Regions from separate parts of the Homo sapiens genome. Here region 1 is linked to region 2. Evidence: fine-mapped expression QTL. A gene starts in region 2. The other region holds a variant in brackets. All regions are shown on one strand. Distances are from middle to middle.

Region 1 (8,493 bases), 25 kb before region 2:
GATGGTCTCTATCGTGTAGGGATGTGTGTGTTACATGGATGTATGTATTTGTCAAAACTCACGTAACTCTACACTGACGATCTGAGTATTTCACCATAAACACCAATAAATGGTTTTTTTTAAAAAAAGCAGCAGCAGCAAAAGAAAAAATGCTGCTACTATTCAGTGCTATCAAGGGGTGGCCTGGGCTGCTGGGCATGGATCCAGCTCCTCCATGGAGCCTGGGGGAAGGAGGCTAATTTCCTAGTGATTGTACACAACGTTCTCTAGCTAACCAAAGTCTTGTTTCCAAAGAATAGTCATCAGTGACATGGCAGAGTGTTCATGTCTTAATGTTAAAGAGGAAAAAAAAGAGGGGGGCAAAATTTCACATAAAGCGGATTCCCAATTTGTAAAAAAGTTTGGACAAAGGCAGAGATACACATATTCATTGAGGCAAGGAACCATTCATTGAGCTTTCGCTTGGCTGTGACCCACATGACACAAACCCTCACTGAGCTCCCAGCCTGTGAGCAAGGTCTTGCGGAGAGGTAAGTGCTTCCTGGGAGACAGTGGCGGGGCCAGCAGAGTTAAGGCTTTTTGGGTGTGACAAACTGGGTTTTCAGGAGAGCTGGCCCTTGGGCTAAGTGGTCTTCCTTTTAAATCAAGGTGTGCCATACAGAAAGCACAGAGGTGAGTGAGTGCACTAATGTACCGTGTAAGCAGGATGATGGCTTTCCTCAATGTCCACGGTGCAACCACCATCCAAGACCACAATGTTGCCAACCCACAACCCCCTTGTGTCCATCCCAGTCTTTACCTCCTTTCCCGGTAACCACCATTCTGACTTCCATCGCCATAAGTTTGTATTCCTGTTCTAGGACTTCATACAAATGGAACCATACAGTAAGTATTTTGGGTCTGCCTTCTTTTACTCAATGTTGTCTGAGATTCACTTCATTCTTTTTAAAATTGTTGTGTCCATTGTATGAATATACCTGTTGATGGACACTTGAATTGTTTATGGTGTTTGGCCATTAAGAGTAGAACCATGGACATTTTAAGACATGTCTTTTTGCTGACATAAGCACTCATTTCTCTTGGGTATATATCTCAAGAAGTGGAATTGCTGAGAGATAGGACAACTAAGTGCTCAGCTTTAGTAAAAACTGCCAAATGGTTTTCCAAGTGGTTGTACCATTTCACTCCCCCAGCCCCAGCAGTGTATGAGATCTCTGGCTTTGAGCTGAGTCTTGATGTGTGGATTCTCATGGCAGTTTATGGTGGCAGCAGATGGAAGCTACAGTTAGGGAGAAAGATATTCTGGATGAAAGGAATGTCATAAAGATCCATGGCGACCATGAAAATGCACCATTCAGATCTCCTGCAGCAGAGAACAAGGGATGGCTCAGCTGCCATGCTGAATCCACCAAGGTACTGATGCTGAGGCCACACTTCCCACTGCGGCTCCCAGGTGACGACTAGCATCGGCGGGTGGGAGGGAATACTTATCTAATGGACACCTTTGGCTCAAAACTCCCCGATCAGCCTGCTGAGAGGTTCTCAGCACTGAGCTACAGCCTGAGGCTCTACCTCCTCTCCCCAGCTTCTCTCCCTCTCCCCCTTACAGGAGTCAGACCTGCAGCAGGTCTCCCCAACAATAAAAGGCCAAAACTCCTCTTTCTTCAGGACAGATTTTATCTTGGGCTAACTTTCTAGCTCTGCTCCCATGGAAGCCAGACAAGCCAGTTAGCTGAATGTCAGGTACAGTATTAGGCCAAACTGCCCATGGGAGTTTTTGACCTCTGATTGATAAGCTACACCTGGGCTGGAAGGACAAAGAATAAGCTATACCATCTGGTAAGAAACCATGGCCTTAGGCTTCCCTAAGTGCAGAAACTCATAACTGGGCATGTCCCTTGAGGGACCCTGGGAACTCTGATTGTGGGTTGTTGAAAACACATTGACTCCTATGGGGCATGGGCTTCTGAATCAAGGTGGCCCTCAGGAGTACTGATGTAAGGACTGCTCCTGTGGAAGGGAACTGCTGACATGGCCCTGCTGGCATGCTGAGCATCTCTCTCCATCCTTCTAAGAAACTCTGATGCCAGGTATGATCTGTCCAGGTCTTGCGAGTCTTAATGTCTAGTTGAGCCCAAAAAAAAACCCATGGTGGATACAGCTCTTCCTCCCCTCAGCCCTCTCCTACCTACTTCTAGGCTTTTATCCCATGTAGGTGGAACTGTGATATTAGTCCAGCTAGTCAAGATGAAATCCAACCAGCTTGCTCACTTTGCCATCCTGGGCGCTTTCCCATTGCCACGTCTCCCTAGCTAACAATCAAGATTAAAGGGCACCTGGGTTTTGACGACCAGCTCCCCTTCCTCCCATCCAATAAGAAGACTTGACCAAGATGCTTAGAATCATTTAATGAATGTTCCAAACACACCCTTCACTGGGCTACAGGTAAATTTCACTGGGATGGAAGCAGATGAACCACCCAATCAAACAGTACATGATTACTCGGTTTCCAGAAATCTGGATACCAGAAAAACTCAGTAGGAAACATCAGGATCACCTAGCCAGAGGTTCCTTGTGATTCTTTGCTTCCTCCTCTCCTCTTCCTCCTCCCTGCTAAGGAACTTCTCCAGGGGTACAAATGTTCAGGATGGGAGAAGGGGAAGTCAGGTCCCTTATCTCTAGGGCAAAGAGGAGTGCTGTGACACCACACCCCAGAGACAACAAGATGATGTGGAGGCACAGGCCTGCTCAATAAATAGTTCCCAGAAGTCTCCACAGTGGGATTAATGGGCCCAGGGACGCTGAACTGCAGGAGCCACCTTCCCGAGGCCAGGCTGTGGCCTGCTCGCTACGTGTTGCACACCAGCACATCTGCAAAGGGTCCCAGGAGGATCTTGTTGAAGATGCAGCGGACCCACACCAGGTAGGTGGTGAAGGGCTTGATGTTCTCAGTGAAGGTGTGGTTCTGCAGAGCCAGGATGTAAGGCACGTAGGTGTTCTCCCCCTGCTCCTGCAGCCACACCTCGTACTTCACCTCCCTCACCTTCAGGTATTTAAGGTTCCATGGGATCTGCCAGGAGACAGTGAGGCGGGCCTCGGAGGCGCCATGCACTGACGCCTGGCACCGTGCCTCCCGCACCTTGCCTGGATATAGGCCGACTGTCCACTTCTGCTTCCGTGGTCCTGGCCGGCCCTTCACCACGCGCCGTATGGTTTGAATGAGGGACGGGATGTCCACCTTGGTGTCCTGGTAGATTCGGAAGAGCCACTCGGGGTTCCGGCAACAGAGATGCCGTGGGACCTCACGGCTTTGCAGGATACGGGCTTGCTCAGCCCGGTCCAGATGGGTGATGCCCCCCTGATCCCAGGGCCGCTCAGGGTGTGTGACTGTGTTCTCTGGCATCATGTTCCGCCAGGCTACATACTGGAGGTCCATGCCAGGCAGCATGGCCAGCGTCTTATAGGGAGTGTAGTGGTCGGGATTGACAGCATATGGGAAGAGCTCTACCACAGTTGCCCCACGGGGCAGGAAGAGGGTGGTGACCAGCTGGGCCCCATGCATGCTGACCAGCATGGAGGCATTGCTGACCAGCCGCACGACATCAGCAAAGGTGTGGTCCTCCAGGGACACTGTCACTGTCTTCATCTGGAACTCCTGGGCCAGTGCCAGCAGCAGCTCTGCCTCATTCAGAATGAGTCTGTTCTGGGTTCGGCTAAAGACCAGAATGTACTCCTCGCCTAGGGGGACTCCTGTGTGGCTCACGTTCAGCTTTTCTGTCATGAACCGTGCAAACTGCCGGATCTCATTGCCTGAGACGAGGATGTTGGCCTTCGGGCCCTGGGGCTGCACAAAGCCATACTGGTACCAGGTAGTGATCTTGGAGAGGCCCACAAAAGCATGGGAGAAGCACAGCAGCCGGCCCAGGGTCTTCAGCTGTGCCCGCAGGAGAGGCTGCTTGGGGCTGAGCAGCTTGTAGAGGTCGAAGTGTGCACCCTCGCCCCAGCCCTCCATGAAGAAGAGCCGTGCCTCGTGGGCCAGGCCGGGAAACTGCCGCAGGGTGTAGAAGAGTGGCAGCAGGTCGTCATGAAAGACGTGCATGAGGTTGTCGGGGTTGAAGCGGTTGGCGATGAGGGCCACGTCTGGCACGAACACCGGCTTGGGCATGAAGCGCAGGGCAGCAGCAGGCAGCTCCACGAAGTTGAAGTACTGAGTGTTGTGGTCCTCCACGGTGGATAGGTCGAGCAGGGCTGGCTGGAAGCGCCGGGAGCCCAGGTTGGGCAGCATGACAGAGGTGTTGCCATGGAAGAAGATGAACTCCTCAGCCTCGTTGGAGTAGCAGAGCCACTTGAAGCGGCAGATGCGGTCTGTGTGCGTGCGGCCCGTGCACACCATGTGTGTGCCGCCCTCCATCAGGATCTGCAGTGCCTTCGGGTAGTCGATCCTCAGTGCTGGGGCTGGCTCTGTGGCCTGTCGGCTGAGGGCCAGCTCCTCCTCCAGTGTGGCTGCATGCTCACGCAGCCGCACATGCTTCCACAGGACCGCTGCCAGCACCGACACCAGGAGGGCGTTGAACACCGCCGAGAGGTGCATCCTAATGCCACTGTGGGGCCCTAATGAGATGACGGCCACTGG[G/A]AAGCACCACAGGCCAGGCAGGCTTCACCCATCCCTATGGGCATCCTGAGAACTGGTGAAAGCCTGCAGGAGGAGAGAAGGAAAAGAAAAAGGAATTGGCAGTCTTCCTGGCATCATTACAAGCTCCTGCTATGTGCCAGGCACGGTAGCTAGGCTCTGTGTGCCCGCTACAGCACTGGATCCTTGCAGCCATTGTGCACATTGGTAGGCGTGGTAGATTAGACCATTGTTTAAAATATTCTCTCCCTCCCCATCGCCTCCATGTTGGAAAGTGCATCCCCACACCCGACTTTGGGCTTAGCCATTTAACTTGCTTTGGCCAGTGAGATGTCAGCAGACAGAACATAATCAAAGGTTTGGAAAGTGTTTGGGCTGGCCTTGCCCTCTTTATGACACTGCCATAAGAAGAATGTATTCAGGCTAACTTGCTGGCCCCAAGAGGAGCGAGATACGCATGAAGCAGAACTGCTCCGGCCATGCCCTGTTCTAGTTCAGCTGATCCCTCATGACTGAGTGGGCCCAGCCAAGAGCAGCAGTGCGATCAGCCAAACGCAGCCAAGATCAGCCAACACATAGACATCAGGGCTGAGCAACAGCTGATTAAACATCCCTGAAATTCTGGGGCTGTTTGTGATGAAGCACTGCTGCAGCAAAAGCTAACAAAGAGAGGCCATAGGAAAGACAGGCCATAGGAAAATCCCTTGCAGGGGCCTGACATTCCTGGACTCTGGGTAATGACTTTTCCTTAAATGAGAACAACTGGCATTGGAGATCTGTGAACACTGTTCCCAGGTTGCACACCAAGACCCCAGTATGCCGCCTTTGAGAGACACACACACGTATGGTCAGCTAAGCTTTGCTCCTGCTTAAAGCTCCTTTAGAAATCATGCCTGCTGGCTTTCAGAATCCCTTAGGAGGAGGGTAGAAACTTGTCCCCTCAGTGGTAAGATAATTGTATCTGGGTATCATCATTGAAAAATGTTTTGTGTACTGAGGCAAAAAAAACCAATAGGGTTTTAAATGCCCTCTCCCATATACACACACTGACAGAGAGGCCTGGCTAGGGGTAAGCATTTACTCCCTCTTCTTGCGATATTGTGAAGGGTATCATGCCTGCTCTGGGACCCAGGATTATTCAGACAGTTGAAGAAGCTCATCCTTTGTGACACAGGAGCAGCACAGGTAACAGCTGACACCTGCAGGGCACTGCACCGGGAGGGAGTAGCTGCTCCTTTATTCCCTTGTGGCTAGGTCCTGATGCAATTCCTGCCTCCCTGCAATGAAAAGAATCCAAGTGCATCTTGCCTAGAAAGAGAAGGTGTCTTTAGCTAGGTTCCCTAAGAAGTAGAGTCAGGGGCAAGGATTTGAATCAAAACAGTTTGAGAAATTATCCCATGAAACACGTGTAGGGGAATGGGAAAGTGAGAACAGAGAAGGGACCAAAGCCAACACATACAGGGTACATTAATGAGCAGTTAATGCCATGTGTAGCCTTCCTCCCATGATCATATGCTGGATATAGTATGGAAGCTGGGATACATGTCTATCAACTCCTGTTGGGCATTACTTAGTTGAAGGTCATTCCTGGAGGCATGAGATCTCTTCTGGCCTACTCTTATCCAAAGGTTGGGCCCACACATATGAATATATCATATACTCCCCACCTCCAAACTTCAGGAAATGAAAATTACCGTGACCAAGTATCATACATTCTAGCTTTTTTTTTCTAGTACACTGTATTCTAAGTTCATTAACAACAACAGAAACAAAACAAAACAAAAAACCTGCCCATAATCATCTTAATTAACTTTCCGACCTACTCACCAGGTTGGCAACTTACTGTTTAAAAAATACTGGTCTACTCCAGATGTTCTCAAGCCTGGCTGATTACTGGAATCCTCAGGAGTAGTTGCTAAATAAAAATCCATATTCCCAGGCACCAGTCCTGGAGGTTCTGATTCAGTAGGTCTGGAGTATGGCTCAGGCATCTGCATTATTTGTTTCTTTTATTTCCTGCCTTCTTGTGAATTACTTGAATTCCACTTTGATTTATCAGTAGTGTTTTTGAGTATATCCCTTGATATAGATTTTCTAGTGGTTGCTCTAGGCATCATACTATAATCTGTAACTTATCACAGTCTACTGGTATTGACATTTTACGTTTCGAATAAGTGTAGAAACTTTACCTCCACCTAGGTTCCTTTATAATTGTCTTATGTGTTTCCTCTACATATAATGAGACCCACATCAGACAGTAATTTTGGCTTCAACTGTCAAGTATGATTTCCTCAAGAGGGAAAGGATCATCTATTATATTCACCCATATTTTTACTCTTTATGTTCGTCCCTCATTCCTGATGTTCCAGGTTTCCTTCCATTCCTATATCCCTTCTTTGAAGAACTTCTGTTAGTTCACTATTCTTTTAAGGTCAACTTCCTGGCAACAAATTCTCTTAGTTTTCCTTCATGTCGAAATGTCTGATTTTAGCTTCATTCCTAAAGGATATTTTCACTGCGTATAGAATTTGGGGTACAGATTTTCCTTCTTTCAGTATGTGAAAAATGATGCTGTGACACCTCCTCTGGCCTCTGTGACTGCTGATGAGGAACTGCTACCCTTCGAATTGTTTTTCCCTGGAGGGAATGCATTGTCTCCTGCTGCTCTTAAGATTTTGTTGAGTTTTCAAAAGTTTGACTCTGAGGTGCCTTGGTGTGGGTTTCTTTGGGTTTATCCTCTTTGGGGTTTGCTCAGATTCTTGAATCTGTAGGCTCATGCCTTCCCCCAAATGTGGGAAATAGCCATTATTTCCTTGAAAACTTTTTCAGCCCCACACTGCTCTCCTAGGACTCCAATTACACCAATGCTAGATTAAAAAAAAAAAATTGTATTGGCCAGGGGCGGTGGTTCACACCTGTAATCCCAGCACTTTGGGAGGCCAAGGCGGGTGGATCACGAGGTCAGGAGTTCGAGACCACCCTGGCTAACATGGTGAAACCCCATGTCTACTAAAAATACAAAAAATTAGCCAGGCATGGTGGCGGGCGCCTGTAGTCCCAGCTACTCGGGAGACTGAGGCAGGAGAATGGCATGAACCCAGGAGGTGGAGCTTGCAGTGAGCCGAGATCGCACCACTGCACTCCAGCCTGGGTGACAGACAGAGCGAGACTCCGTCTCAAAAAAAAAAAAAAAAATTGTACTGTCCCACAGATCTCTGAAGCTCTGTTAATTTTTTTCCGGTATTTTTTCTCCCTGTTGTTCAGACTGGATGATTTCTATCATTCTGGCTTCATGTTCGCTGATTCTTTCCTGTGTCCTTTTTATTCCTGATTGAGCCCATTCAGTAATTTTAAAATTCTGCTTACTCTATTTTTCATATCTAAAATTTCCATTTAGTTTTTATAACTTCTTTTTTTTTGCTAAAACTTATCCTGGACATTTCGGTCATAATGTTATGATACTCTGGATCTTACTTAAATCTTCTATTTTAGTAGCTTCTGTTAAAACTGTACTGGTGGGGGAAAGGAGAGCATTGACTCTTTACTGTTGGGCGGGGGTGGGCATCCAGGCTCCCTACTCAGCCTCCACCAATACCATCGTGGCTGGGAGGGGGAGGGATACTCAGCACAGAGTGTGTGTCAGGGTGTCAAAACCCAGGCTCTGCAGTTGGCCTCCAATGACACCCTGGGGTGTGGATGGAAGTCTAGGCCCCAAGAGGACTATGGTAGTGAAGGACGTATGTTACTACTAGGCGGTCGTGAAAGTCTAGGCTTCCCATCAAGTGGGGAGGGTGTGGGGCAGCTGGTTACCCCTAGGCAAAGGTGGAAGTCTAGGCTATCTGATATGGTTTGGCTCTGTGTCC
Region 2 (8,493 bases):
GAACCAGAATCTCTCTGAGATGAGGACCCAGGAACTTGTGTCTTAATAAAGCTTCCAGGTGATTCTTGCGTGTGCACAATACTGAGGGGAACTGCTCTGAGGTTCTTCTAACATTTCACAATTTTGCGATACTCAGCAAGGCATTTCTATCTAGCCCAGGTTAAACAACTAATTCAATTGAGAATAACCCTCCCCATAAGTATCAGTAAAGGCTAAATAAATTCTGTTCCTACCTTTTGCTAAGATGATGCATAAGCCTAAGCTCTGGGACAATCTGAGAAGTCCGCCAGACTCTAAGCTCCCTTTTGAGACAAGTTGCCCCAACCCATTCCTTCCCACACAAAGTGCACCATTTGTGGTGTGGGAGTGGCAAGAAACGAGTCCAGGTCTCTTGGCCACAGCTAAATGGACTAAGGATGGAGTCTGGGTCTAAAGCAGCCACCAGTAGAGGACATAGGGAGATGGCCATCCCTGCAGGCCAGCAGAGAGGAGGTAGGTCCCCCGAGAAAGAAGCCCCTGAACAGAGCAAATTTGGACAGCATCTCCAGTTCCTTACAATGGCTACTGTGTGACTCTCTTGGAAGCTCTGGGACCCAGCACAACTGTGGCAACTCCAGATGCCACTCCAGGATGTGCCATGATTCCTGCCACAAACCTCCACTGTCAAAGGACCCCGGGGTGTGTTTCATCACTGGGTGTGGCAATACAGCAGACCAGGTCCCCAGTCCCTTCCTAAGGCTTAGCTCAGGGCTGAGGAGCAACTACACAGCAAAGAAGGGGCCTTCTCTTAGCCTTTTCAGAATGGAGAAAACAGATAAATTTGTAGCATAAGCTTGTACCAATGGCAGTCACCACTGGCAGAGTGAAAGATCTGATTCTCTTAGAGGTGCTGGAGTATGTACCAGTGCAGACATGGGAAGCCAGAGAAAACAAAAGGACTTGTCCAGGTTAACTAAGAAAAAAAGGATGTTGGCCTCTGGGTAGGGGATAAAGATGAATGGTCTCACCATCTTACTTTACTGAGCACCTACTATGCGAGAGGCGCTGTCTTAAGCCTTTTTCCTGACCTATTTCATTTAAGCCTCACCCTCCAATGCAGTACCAATATTATCCCCATTTTCTTTTAACATGAGAAAACCAAGTTTTAGTGGAGTTAAGTACCTTGCTTAAGGTCTTAAAGCTCAAGAAGGGCCACCAGGATTTGAACCTGCCTCTCACTAAGGTCTTGTTCTTAGTACCGTGCTCATCTGTCATCAGACTTGGAGGAACACTCAATGGCAGATAAGCAGAGTAGACTGTAGAGCAGTGAGTTTTTATTAGTCAAGGGCAGAGCAGGTGTGGTGGCCCTGGAAATGTAGAACCACAGGCCCTGGACTGTAACTTAGCAACCCAAGGCTTCTTGCTGTAATTCCTCCCCACCCAGCCAGGCAGAGGGTACCCAGCTGTGACAGGTGGCTTAGGGAGCTGTGGCCATTCTCTCACCCTAAGGAGAGTCTAAGTAACATACTAGTGTGATAATTTATCCCATGTGCCCTGGTACTGTGCTGAGAGGGTTAGGCCATCAATTTAGAATTACAAAACCACTGCCCTTTAGAGCTACAAGAACCCTTAGAAATGATTTCCTCCAACTCTTTATTTCATAAAAGAGGTCTGGAGAGGCAGTGTGAGCTCTCACAGGCAGCCAGGATTAAAATGGCAGAATGTTGGCTCTCAGTCCAGGGCTCCTTCTCCTCCCTTATCCACAGCTCAAGGGCTGCTCTCCCTCACAAAGCAAAGATAAGGCTCAGAGAATTATGCAGCCCCAGAACATTTCCCAGGAGCTAAACGAAGGCATTTCTTCTCATACACAAGCTTCCCAGATCCCACCCAGCCTGCACCCTCACCCAGCACTGCCCCCTCACCCAGCCCTGCTGTCCAGTGATGAGACCCTAAAGAGGCGACAGGGCTTGCCTGGGCTGCCTCTTCCTAACACCTCCTCCCCTGAACTCACTCAGGGACTGTCCCCTACAGCTTCACCATGCATCCAACACCAGCCACAGAGAGGAAACACACAGCCAGGCTGCAGGGTCCTGCCTCTGACCCACTTGGTGCGGGAAGACTCCCTGCTGCAAGACTGGAGGCTGCCCCAGGTCATAACTGGGCTTCAAGAATGCAAGAACAGCAAGGACGATGGGCAGCAGAGAAGGAGAATTACATGGCACCAGTTCTGGAGCTGGAGATGCCAGGATATGAATTCCCATCCCTGTCACTTAGCAGCTAAGTGACCTTAGGCCAATTCTTTACCTCTCCAAGCCTTCACTTCCTGGCTTGAAAAACACAATTATACCTACTTCACAGGGTAGTTTTGTGAATTCAAAGAGACAGCAAAGGCAAAACACCATGTCTGACAATTATTTTTCTAATATTATTATTAATCGTAATGGTAAAATAACTCCTGTTCACTGGCTTTCACTCTCAGCCAGGCACAGTGCTAACTGTTTTACACGCATTATCTCATTTATTCCCCACTACCTGAAGTAAATGCTATTAATTCAATTTCACATTTAAGAAGGTATGCTTAGAGGCATTAAGTGAATTGCCCAGTGATACACAGCAATTAAGTAGAGGGGTTAGGATTCAAAACCAAGACGGACTCCAAAGCCCGTGATGACATTTGCAGGTTCCACCTTTCACATTCATTATTTCATCCAATTTAAGAAACCCTGGGAATCACGTGATTGGTAGGTCCTGGGGGGAAAGTATCCCACTGACAACCAAGCTGAGATTGGCAAGGACCCTTGGAATGGGGGATTTGGTAATCTAATTTTCTAGTTAGTGCAATATTTACTAGAAGGCTTTGTTTATTGCTAAATATTTTCTAAAGCAAGGCTCAGAGCAAGAACTTGCCAACTAGCATGCTTACATGGCCACGGTGGGCCCAGCCACCAGCACCATGCCCTCCTTTCTGCTGAAGATCTCCACTCTCCTTCTCGTTCTCGCAGGGGCCCAAGGCTCAGGAAGGAACGTGCTGACCACCCCTGGGGATGAGGGGACCTATGCTCTTTCCTAGCTCTGCAGGGACTGAGATTCCTCAAAATTAATATTGAAAGGATGAGCTGGAAGATCTGCAAGATTCATGAGAGCCAGAGAGGGCAGCTAGTACCATTAAAGATGAACCTGGACTCCAAGCACCTCTAACACTTTCTGTCGTTAGTCACCACGACTGCTGATATTTGCCACACACTTACTGTTAGACATACTGGGCTGAGGACTTGCCTGGCACTATTTCATCCCCACTGCAACCCCGTGATAAAGGCACTGTACTTTCATCTCCACTTCACAGAGAAAGAAACAGAGGCTAAGAGAGGATAAGTGACTTGCTTAAACGCACACCGCTAGTAGCCGAGAACCAAGATTTGAAGGCGGGGCACATATTGTAGTAAACATTTGGTGAATGAAACCTCCTCTGTCTATGCTCTTAGCTACTAAGTCCTATCAAGCTCGCCCCATAACCCTGAAGTCATCCTTTTCCACGCGGAGCCTTGCTTCTCCCAAGAGTACGCTCTAAGTGTTGGCTGGCAATAAAGTAGGCAGACACTGGTCGCCCTGCACCTGGTGCAAGACTCTGGCCTGACGGTCACATACTTTAGCAGAGAGTTCCCATCAGTGAGCTGGAGACGGGTTCCTAAACACACACATGGAGTCAGGAGTTCACTGGGTTCCTTCTTCAGAGGCTACTCTGGCACTGCCAAGCAGGCCGTGGCAAGCTCTTACCACCGGACACACATGGTAGGTGCCCTACTGGCCCCCAAAGCGCCCAGGAATCAGCTGCAGGCCTGCCGGGGTTCTGCCTTCAAAGGCAGTTGGGGAGGCCCAGGCCCGCTCCGCGCACCTCGCGTGGCTCCCCACCACCCCCGCCAAATGTGCACCACCCATCACCTCCCAAAGCAAAAGGGCCTGAGGACCCGACGCCAGTGCCTGCCACGAGCTGAGGGCTCGAACTGGCAAGCCCCAGGGCGTTGCCCAGGTCCCCGGCCCCCGGCCCCCGACCCCCAATCCCCGGCCCCCGACCCTGAGGGTCCACCCCCGCCCCGCCCACCTCCCGCGCCTCCCTCAGCTCGCTTCACACGTCACCCCTCAGTTCTGCAAACTCTCCTGGATCCCGAAGGCGTCCTAGAACCTCCCCCTCACCCCGGGGCCCAGCACCGCGTCGTCCCCTCCAGGGGGCCGAGGGTTCGACACCTCCACTTCAAGTCCCAGGCGGGTGTCGGAGTCCGCTCCAGCCCCAAGCGCGCGCGCGTCTTACCTGAAGCCTGGACTCCGCGGGACGAAGCCACCTCCGCCGACGCGTCCAGGAGGCCCCACGGCGGCGCCGCTTTCCCACCCCGCCGCCGCCCCCAGCGCCAGCTTCTGGCCCAGGAGGCCCAGAAGGCCCAGGCAGCCAGCACAGGTTTGGCCGCGCCGCCGGGTTCGCAGCGACCGCCACCTCCAGGCTCGCAGGTGTCCGCCGTGCGCCTGCCCGGCGGGCGAGCCCGGCGCGGAGCCTGTGCGCCTGCGCAGAGCCGCGAGTTCGGTTGCCCTGGCCCCGGCCACAACCTTGGCTCGCGGAATCCTGGGAGGTGTAGTTTTGCGTACGAGGACAGCCCGCGCCGCCACCAGCCTGCGGAATGTTGGGAGTGATAATTTGCGCCGAGAGGCTGAGTTTTACTTAGTGTTAGGATTACACAGTTATGGCAGTTCTGATAATAAATTTAAATGCAAGTTTAACCAACAACCAAATGTCATTGTAAAGTCAAGGTAATTAATACGTTTACATGCTTTTAAAAATTGTAATGCTACAGAGAACTTACAAAAGCACCAGTCCTCTGCGGCACCATTCCATTAACCAGCTGTCACCTTATCCCACCGTCCAGTCCTGGCTGTCCAGTCCTCAAGGGCAGCTACTTATGGCTGTGGCATCTGGCATTCCCGCGGATTCTCCGAATATACATATGCCCCTATTTCTTGAGTTATGAATTTTAGATCTTTTGACTTCTTTTTTAGATCTCTTGACTTTTTTTGAACTTAAGTCATCTAGAGATGCACCTACCACCACCAACTCCACCTCCATAGAGTTATAAGATTTCTACCTATCAAATTGGGAAAGCCCTGACTTTAATTTATGATTATTTTAAATTAGCCCAAATGTTAAGGTATTAAGTTGGTAAATTTTTGCAGGGCAATTTGTCAATACAGCCAAAAACCTTTAAAAACATGTAGTCAAAAGCCTCTAACCAAGAAATTCTAATAATTGTGGATGACTGCAAAGGCTGAATAGTGTTGTTTAGATGATAATAAACTGAAAGGCTGAAGTGGTGATATTACTTTCAGAGAGAGTAGAATTGACAGCAAGGAAAATTACCAAGAATAAAAAAGGGATAATTATATAATGATAAAAGGTTCAATTCACCAAGAAGACATAATTCTAAATGTGGATACACCTAACGACATAGCCTTAACATAAATAAATCAAATGATAGAACCATAATTAGAAATAGACAACTCTGCAACTGTAATTGGAAACTTCAGCATCCCTCTCTCAACAACTGATAGAACACTAGACAGAAAGTCAGCAAGGATATAGAAAAGATCAACACTAATACCATCCTAATCTAATTGATATTTACATAATACTTCACCCACCAACAGAATACACATTCTTTTCAAGCAACCTTGGTATATATATTAAGATAAACTGTATCCTGGATCATAAGTTTTTAAATATACAGAAGACATTAATATATATTTTACCAAAGTAGTTATACAGATGGCAAATAAGGACAGATGTTCATCACTAGCCATAAAGGAAATGCAAATTAAGACTATGCTGAGATATCACCATACACCTATTTAAAACAGCTTAAAAAGGCAGGGCGCGGTGGCTCATGCCTGTAATGCCAGCACTTTGGGAGGCCATGGCTGGCGAATCACGAGGTCAGGAGTTCAAGACCAGCCTGGCCAACATGGTGAAACCTCGTCTCTACTAAAAATACAAAAATTAGCTGGATGTGTTGGTGCGCGTCTGTAAACCCGGCTACTCAGGAGGCTGAGGCAGGGGAGAATCACTTGAACCCAGGAGGCGGAGGTTGCAGTGAACCGAGATCGCGCCACTGCACTCCAGTCTGGGCTACAGAGCAAGACTCCATCTCAAAAACAAACAAACAACAACAACAACTACAAAACAGCTTAAAAAATAAAATAGCAAATGCTGGTGAGTATGCACAGAACTGGATCTCTCATATATTACTCACAGATGGGTATATCATGGTAGTTTCTTTTAAAAAACTAAACATATGCTTCCCATATGACTCATCAATCACACTCCTGAGCATCTATTCCAGAGAAATGGAAACTTATGTTAACACACAAACTTGTACACAATTGTTCCTACTTTCTTTATTTGTAATTGTCAAAAACTGTCAACAAACAAAATGCCCCTCGATAGGTGAATGGTTAAATAAACTGTGATTACATCTATATAAAGAATATCATTCAACAATAGAAAGGCACAATTGACACATGCCACAACTTGGGCATTATGCTGGGTGAAAAAAAGTCAGTCTCAAAAGGTTACATACTCTGGTTGCCATTTGTATAACATTCTTGAAATGACAAAACTATAGAGATGGAGAAAATATTAGTGGTTGTCAGAGGTTGAAGACAGGGTGTAGGTGTGAATATATAAGGGTAACAGAAGGGAAGCCTTTGTACTGATGAAATAGTTCTTTGTCTTGATTGTGGTAGTGGTTACACAAATCTACACATGTGATAAAATGACTAAAACTACACACAAACTTTCTATCAAGGTTAAATTCCTGATTTTTATATTGTATTATAATTACGTACAATGTAACCATTGGGGGAAACTGGATGAAGAGATTCCTCTCTGTACTATCTTATTATAGATTTTCACAAATCTATAATTATTTCAAGATAAAAAGTAGGAAAAAAAACAAATTTGGAAACTGCTTAATTCCTCAGTCATGCAGGATTAAGTAAAATCACAGATCATCTCAGAAATCATTGAAAAGATGCTGCAAAATAGTATTTACTTAATAGAGTGGAAGACATTTCACATTATATCATATTTAATGAAAAAAGTATAAAATATTCCATAAGATCCCATTTTTAAAAAGAATATATTTGTGCACAGTAACAGCACAGAGCACAGAAGGATATCAGCAAAATTTCAATGAGCCATGACCCAGGGTGGTAAGACTATGGGTGTTTTTTTATTGTCATCTTGCTGGTTACCTGTATGAATTTATTCTGAAGTGAACATATATTGTTTTGTTATTTTAAATATAAGTTGTTTAAAAAACTTCTAAGTTTTAAAAAGCTCCTATGTTGAGTTTATGGGTCTCTATAAGATAGCCAGTCATAGTCACTGATAGAAAGAGGCACCTAACAGTCCAAGAGAGCAGCCCCTTGCTGGAGGTGGACAGGGATTGGGTTCTGGCCAAAGCTGAATCTCCTGGATAGGATCTAACAGGATGGCCTGTAAGTCACCTAGGACCCAGTTTGCAGACACTGATCATCTTTGAGTCCATCATGTTTTGAAAACTATTCTGGCTGTGGAGCATTGCTGGTAGGAAGCTTTAGTAGACTGGAAAAAACTAGTACATTTCTTTTTATTAAATATCCAAGGTGGCTTAGGTAGCTGGCTTTTTGAGGTCTTTCCCAGCATTTTAAATCCATATTCATGCATGCCAAGCTGAGTTAGGCATTCCTCAAGTCCAAGCCCTCTCCCTTTGTCTGGGGTCATATTCCCTTTCTATTTCTCTGTGTGGATGCCTTCCAAACCCACATCTCTAGCCCTGAATTCCAGATCCACATTCCCAATCCAAGTTGCTTGGGGCATACACACCTCCACCTGGCTGGCCTGCTAGGATCTTAAAATCTGCATGATGAACATGGTGGTGATGGTAAAGATTGGGATGGTTTTTAAATATGTCTGCAAATTATTTGACTATTTTTCCTTTGAAAGGGGGAGTCTAGTTCCCTTCCCTCAAATATGGGCATAACTTAGTAACTCACTTCAATGAACAGAAAATGTCAGAAGTGATGCTATGTGACTTCTGAAACTGGGTCATAAAAGTGGTACATCCTCTCTCTGTCTCTCTCTGGTTGCCTTGGGAACAGATTCACCATGTTGTGAGGAAGCTCAGGTTACATGGATAGGACCTGCATGAGTGTATTAATGTGTTAGAGCTGCCATACCAAAATTTCAGACTGGGCAGCTTAAAAAACAGAGATTTACTTCTCACCGTTCTGGAGGTTGGAAGTCCAAGATCGAGGTGTCAGCAGGGTTGGTGTCTTCTGAGGCCTCTCTCCATAGCTTGAGGATGGCCGCCTTCTTACTGAGCCCCCACATGCCTTTTCCCTATGGATGCCCATCCTTGGTGTCTCTTGTGTGTCCCAATCTCCTCTTCTTATGAGTATACCAGTCAGATTGGATTATGGCCTAACCCAAAA

Evidence for each region. PIP is the estimated chance that this variant, and not a neighbour inherited with it, causes the effect. A credible set is the group of variants that fine-mapping cannot tell apart.
Region 1: its variant is the best candidate, but not a certain one, in a credible set for the expression of POMGNT2 in nucleus accumbens (GTEx, PIP 0.62).

What each region holds. Positions count from the first base shown.
Region 1 is chr3:43,076,841-43,085,333 of GRCh38, forward strand. POMGNT2 (protein O-linked mannose N-acetylglucosaminyltransferase 2 (beta 1,4-)) reads right to left here. Exons shown (of 2, transcript NM_032806.6): 2 at 2,394-4,696. The coding sequence starts at 4,591. The coding sequence ends at 2,849. Among named protein-coding and RNA genes, the nearest start is that of POMGNT2-AS1, 4.9 kb to the right of the region's middle. RefSeq lists enhancers at 2,787-3,288, 3,289-3,788. The variant G/A (reference allele first, on the strand shown) is at 4,634.
Region 2 is chr3:43,101,551-43,110,043 of GRCh38, forward strand. It overlaps POMGNT2 (protein O-linked mannose N-acetylglucosaminyltransferase 2 (beta 1,4-)), which reads right to left and starts at 4,529. Exons shown (of 2, transcript NM_032806.6): 1 at 4,286-4,529. RefSeq lists a silencer at 4,297-4,616.